Homo sapiens: one gene and its partner. The protein of the gene in region 1 purifies or fractionates together with the protein of each later gene. This does not show direct contact. Each region holds a gene or a part of one and is shown in the gene's direction. Other genes may lie near its edges. The genes, in order: SLC25A17 and ARID4B.

Region 1 (2,938 bases):
CAACTACTCGGGAGGCTGAGGCAGGAGAATCACTTGAACCTGGGAGGTGGAGGTTGCAGTGAGCCAAAATTGTGCCATTGCACTCCAGCCTGGGTGACAGAGTGAGAAGATGTCTCAAAAAAAAAAAAAAAGGAAAAATTTTTCTTATTTTCACTTATTTGATTGAAATATTTCACTCAGTTGAAAAATACAGGATTAATGAAATCTATGGTACTAATTGGATAAATTTATTAATGTATGCTATAAGATACTACTCCAACATAATATCCTCCCCAGGTAAAAATGAAGATTTTAAAAAACAGCAACAGTACTTTTGTTTTTTTTCCCTCTTTCCTCAGTTTGGGCGTCATAGACTAAACCCAGAAAACAGAACATTGGGAAGTCTTCGGAATATTCTCTATCTTCTTCACCAACGAGTAAGGTGAGCTTTGTAGATGCCTCACATTCCGTGCTCTCCTTCAGCAGCCATCTCTGCCAGGGAGGGGTTGCATTTCCCTCTCTCACACTACTGCCTTGGTGGTGGCAACCTCCAAAACCTTTCCCTTGCTTGCTGTGCTTAGACATTTCCCATTTTAGGAGCCTAGTACAGTATGACAGCATTTTGGGAAATTATGGAAAAGTTCAGGTTCTTATTCTTTGTTAGTTACAAATATTCAGAACTCCTTCAGAAAGAGAACCCTTCTATACTTCAGTCACCCTGAGTGTGCTTTCATCAGTGGCATATCCTATGATGCCTCTTAGCAATATAACATCTGCCTATAGAATAGGAGTACTGGAGAAGGGAGGGGGCAGTGGAAAAAGTGATAATAGTGATGATGATGATGATAATGATGATGGTGGTGTTGGTAAGAGTAGCTAACATTTTCAGTGGTTTGCCATGTGGCAGACACTGACCTAGAGGCTACACATAGGTAATCTCAATCCTTTTTTTTTTTTTTTTTTTTTTTGGAGACAGAGTCTCGCTCTGTTGCCCGGGCTGGAGTGCAGTGGCGCTATCTCCGCTCACGGCAAGCTCCGCCTCCTGGGTTCACACCATTCTCCTGCCTCAGCCTCCCAAGTAGCTGGGACTACAGGCGCCTGCCACCACGCCTGGCTCATTTTTTGTATTTTTTAGTAGAGATGGGGTTTCACTGTGTTTGCCAGGATGGTCTTGATCTCCTGACCTCGTGATCTGCCCTTCTCAGCCTCCCAAAGTGCTGGGATTACAGGTGTGAGCCACCGCGCCCAGCCTTGTCAATCCTAACAGTAGCTCTGTGAGTTAAGAACTATTGTCATTTCCTGTTTCATTTAAAGAAACTGACACTTAGTGAAGTCAGATAAGTCAGGGACCTCCTTTGAAGCAAAAGCTCTTATAACTTTATTACTGTTCCTAGATACAAGATACTTTGAAAATAAATTTATTATTAAAATAAAATATGCAGCCAGGCAAAGTGGCTCATGCCTGTAATCCCAACACTTTGGAAGGCTGAGACAGGAGGATAGCTTGAGGCCAGGAGTTCAAGACCAGCCTGGGCAAAGTAGTGAGACCCTGTCTCTACAAAAAATATTTACAAAATTAGCCAAGCATGTGGCACAAACCTGTAATCACAGCTACACACGAGGCTGAAGCAGGAGATTCACTTGAGCCCGGCAGATTGAGGCTGTACTGAGCTATGATGGCACCACTGTACTCCAGCCTGGGCTAAAGAGGCAAGACCTTGTATAAAAAAAATAAAAAAAAAAAAAGAACATTCAAGGGACTAAAAGACAAAATTAGGCTGGGCGTGGTGGCTCACACCTATAATCCCAGCACTTTAGGAGGCCAAGGCAGGCAGATCGCTTTAGCTCAGGAGTTTGATACTGGCCTGGGCAACATAGTGAGACCCCGTCTCTACACAAATAAAAAATTAGCTAGGCATCCTGGTGCCTGCCTGTAGTCCCAGCTACCCAGGAGGCTGAGGTGGAAGGATTGCTTGAACCCAGGAGGTCGAGGCTGCAGTGAGCTGTGATTGTGCCACTGCACTCTAGCCTGAGCAACAGAGTGAGACCTTCTATCAAAAAATAAAATAAAATAAAAGACAAAGAATATGTATAAAGTAAAAAATAAATACTCACTATATCAAGTATTGGGAGGGATGTTGGAGCAACCAGAACTTACTTTCTTATGCTGCTGGTGGGAATATAGAATGGTACAGCTGCTTTGGAAGGCAATTTGGCATTTTCTTTAAAAATTTTTATATACCACACCTATTATAGGACCCAGCCATCCACTTCAGGGTATTTACCCAAGAGAAATGAAGGCATATGTCTACACAAAAGCTTGTATACAAATGTTAATAATGGCTTTGTTTTTTTTTTTTTAATTTTTTAATTTTTGATTTTTGTGGGTACATAGTAGGTATATATTTTTGAGGTATGTGAGATGTTTTGATACAGGCATGCAAAGCATAATAATCACATCATGGAAAATGGGGTATCTATCCTCTCAAACATTTATTCTTTTTGTTACAAACAGTCCTATTATACTCTTTTAGTTATTTTTAAATGTACAATTAAATTATTATTGACTATAGTCACCTGTTGTGCTAGCAAATACTAGGTCTTATTCAAACTATCTATTTTTGTACCTATTAACCATCCCCACCTTCCCCCCGCCACTACTCTTCCCAGTAGTCTCTGGTAACCATCCTTCTACCTTTATCTCCATGAGTTCAATTGTTTTGATTTTTAGGTCCCTCAAATAAGTGAGAACATGCGATATTTGTCTTTCTGTGCCTGGTTTGTTTCACTTAGCAGAATGACCTCCAGTTCCATCCATGTTGTTACAAACAACAAACTCTCATTCTTTTTGATGGCTGAATAGTACTGCATTTTGTATAAGTACCACATTTTCTTTATCCATTTATCTGTTGATGGACATGTAGCTTGCTTCCAAATTTAAGACATTATTTGTAAGAAC
Region 2 (3,830 bases), on another chromosome or scaffold:
CAGTAATTCAGTGCTAAATACCCCTCCTACTACACCTGAATCGCCTTCATCAGTCACTGTAACAGAAGGCAGCCGGCAGCAGTCTTCTGTAACAGTATCAGAACCACTGGCTCCAAACCAAGAAGAGGTTCGAAGTATCAAGAGTGAAACTGATAGCACAATTGAGGTGGATAGTGTTGCTGGGGAGCTCCAAGACCTCCAGTCTGAAGGGAATAGCTCGCCAGCAGGTTTTGATGCCAGTGTGAGCTCAAGCAGTAGTAATCAGCCAGAACCAGAACATCCTGAAAAAGGTGAGAAGGAAAATGTGTATGTTGACTTATTTTAGGGTTTCCCCTCTTAAAGTTTCAATGATTTCACAGTATCTCTTGTTATAACCTGAGGCGATTAAGTGTCATATTTGTGTGAACATGGTAAAAATGGAAATTTTAAAGGTAATTTGAAAATGAATAGTGGAATGCATTTAAAAGCTTGAGAAGGCTTTAATGTGCTTTGCTTGAGCCATCCATGGCATTTTATTGTGGACCAGAACACATGCTAGAAATTGCACCCAGGCCCAAATCCAAACCTGTTTGAGAATTCATTATATGCAGTGGTTGACTATATGGCATGAGCAGCTTAAATCTATTTCTGTAACATTGTTTTTGCAATTGTAATGTGCAGTTTCTCACGAACATTTTGATTTATTGACAGACCCCTCCACCCTTAACCAAATACTGTATGTAGGGGTTTGGAGCAACCAACTGTCCAGGCACTGCTTTCCTCAGACAACCGTGTCAAACTGATTTTCAAGCCTGACTAACTTGTGTGAGTTTGTAAAGGAATTTGATGCTTTCTTAGATGCATAGCTTCCAAATTGAAGGACCAATGTGTACGTTAATAACCTACAGTAATACTTTTTTGATTTTCCGTGAAATTGTTAAAAGTGGAAATTCAAATCGGTACCTTCCCAAAGTATTAGTGCCTTTCGATGGTGCCATAGCCATACTTCTGTCATCATTTTTCTTATAAACCACTTCATTCAGGTATCTTTAAATCAGTATACTCTAGGCTGACACCTGGCTTTGGAACACACTTTTCCATCGTAAAGACAGAGCACTGGAGTATGTTTTTTATATACCGTAAAAGATTTTAGAATGCTAGCTTTAGGTTTTCAGCAAAGCTTAAAGAGATATGGTCTAGATCAAATTAGTTAATTCTATGTTTTCTCAGGAATCTTGACTTAAAACATTTCTGTTTTAAAATAAATTAAAAAAATACTTGCAATTAAATTGAAATGTTCTTTGCTTTTTTTCACATTTACAAGTATAACTACTATGATTTTATCTGTGCCATACTATCTCATGCAACTGAACTATCCAGGCATGACTAATCTTCAAAATGAAAGAATCCTTTATTTCAGAATATTAGGCTTTCAACAGTAAGATTTTACTGGCCAGGTGTGGTCACTCACACCTGTAATCCCAGCAATTTGGGAGGTCTGGGAGGTCAAGGCGGTGGATCGCTTGAGTCCAGGAGTTCAAGACCAGCCTGGACAACATGGCAAAACCCCATCTCTACCAAAAATACAAACGTCAGCCAGCTGTGGTGGCGCATGCCTGTAGTCCCAGCTACCTTGGGGGCTGATGAGGGAGAATCACTTGATCCCGGAAAGGCTGCAGTGAGCCAAGATCACGCCACTGCACTCCAGCCTGGGTGATAAAACAAGACCCTGTCTCAAAAAAAAAAAAAAAAAAAAAAGAAAAAACAAGAAAAGAAAGAAAAAAACAGGTTTTATTGTTATAGGTTTTCTTGGGGGTTTTTTTTTTGAGATGGAGTCTCGCTCTGTTGCCCAGGCTGGAGTGCAGTGGTGTGATCTGGGCTCACTGCAACCTCCGTCTCCTGGGTTCAAGTGATTCCCCTGCCTCAGCCTGCTGAGTAGCTGGGACTACAGGCGTGTGCCACCATGCCCAGCTAATTTTTTGTATTTTTAGTAGAGATGGCATTTCGCCATGTTAGCCAGGATGGTCTCTATCTCTTGACCTCATGATCTGCCTGCCTTGGCCTCCCAAAGTGCTAGGATTACAGGCATGAGCCACCGTGCCTAGCCTATTGTTGTAGTTTTTAAGAGGTTGTATCCTTATTATGTTCGTAATATCTTACAAAAGATTAAAATTAACAACAAAAAAAAAGAGGATATCTTCTCTGCTAATAGACTAAGTCAACACTGCCCTTTTGAATCTTAATCTTGACTAGGTTAATAATTGTGGAATTTGAAAGCTACTCCTAAATTTAGGGTAATTTATATCTCTTTAGAAATAATTGGTGTTTTTCTTTTTGTTGGGTTTTTTTTTTTTTTTTTTTTTTTTTTTTGAGACATAGAGTTTTGCTCTTGTTGCCCAGGCTGGAGTGCAGTGGTGCAATCTTGGTTCACTGCAACCTCCACCTCTCAGGTTCAAGAGATTCTCCTGCCTCAGCCTGCTGAGTATCTGGGATTAACGCCCGGCTAATTTTTGTATTTTGTTTAGTAGAGATGGGGTTTCGCCATGTTGGCCAGGCTGGTCTACGAACTCCTGACCTCAGGTAATCCACCTACCTTGGCCTCCCAAAGTGCTGGAATTACAGGCATGAGCCACCGCGCCCAGCCAGAAATAGGTTCTTAAGCACCTGTTTCACATGGCCACATTTTAATAAATTTACTTACTATGAATATTGGAGACTCCCCACTATATCACAAGTTAAAATTTAAGTTTTACTATTTAGATGTAGTTTTTTCCTCTTAATTTACTCTACATTGAAGGTTTTTATTTCTTAGTATCTGAACACTTTAGAATTAAACTCTCTTGGAGAGAAACCTGACAATTATGGTTCTGTGCTTCAGTATGGTCAATATCTACGTCTCCTTTATGTTTCACTTAAATTGTGATATTAAAATGACATTAGGTGGGTCACATACTTGGTGTAAAAAATAAAAAAGAAATATTAAAAATTTAAAAAGGTATTAGGAAAAGTTGTAAGTAAGATTATATGACCCATTAAAAAAAAGCTAGGAAGTTGCAGACAGTTAATTACTTGTCCTGTTTTTGATCAAGGAAGTTAGGTTTTATACACAGAAGGTTGATTTGGTGTCTGACATTGGAACTGAATGGAGATAGTACTTTATTAGTCTCTGGAGAAAAAATCTTACTTTATATAGTCTGAGAGATAACATATATGAATTAGACAGAAATATAGCAGATGTTAAGGACCAAATGAGTAGTATAGAAAAATGCTACAGTTCAGAGTAGTGATTGATCAGTGAAGCCTGGAACATCTTAGTGAAGATGTAGGACTTGGGCTAGTCCTTGAAGAAAAGGGAGACATTTATTTGTAATGTTTTGCAATAATTTCCCACCAAGAAGATGAGACGTTTTTTAGAACTACTATGTTGGATTTGTAAATGGTATGCATGTTAACCAAACAGTGCCCTGGGAGCTTAGTTATTCTTGACATAAATTGGTAAAAAAGAACCAAGTATGAATTACTGCTAAAATTTACCTCATTTATATCATTTAAAAATTATATTAATATGATTATAAGACATAATGTCATTAACATTTTAACCTGTGATTAAGTCTTAATATTTTGGTTTTATTGAATCTTAACAAATTTCAGTTTTTATTTTCAGCATATACTTTTAATTACTAGGCTTATAAACTCCCAGTACTATATTAAGGACTATTTTCAGTTTATATCTGATTTTTTTAAAGAAGGATGTGCATACTTTGTTTGCCTTTTTAAAAACCCTGACTTTTATTATGTATAAGAATTGAGCTTCCATTAATGACAGTTTATTTAAAAATTGTAGTAAGTTC

Evidence for each region.
Region 2: the proteins of SLC25A17 (region 1) and ARID4B purify together in Homo sapiens (affinity purification with mass spectrometry; one large-scale study listed by BioGRID and IntAct). This does not show direct contact.

What each region holds. Positions count from the first base shown.
Region 1 is NC_000022.11:40,771,420-40,774,357, reverse strand, and holds part of SLC25A17 (peroxisomal membrane protein PMP34), read left to right. Parts: intron 1-338; coding exon 339-421; intron 422-2,938.
Region 2 is NC_000001.11:235,178,045-235,181,874, reverse strand, and holds part of ARID4B (AT-rich interactive domain-containing protein 4B), read left to right. Parts: coding exon 1-290; intron 291-690; coding exon of another isoform or gene 691-782; exon of another isoform or gene 783-804; intron 805-3,830. UniProt on the Homo sapiens protein: Acts as a transcriptional repressor. May function in the assembly and/or enzymatic activity of the Sin3A corepressor complex or in mediating interactions between the complex and other regulatory complexes.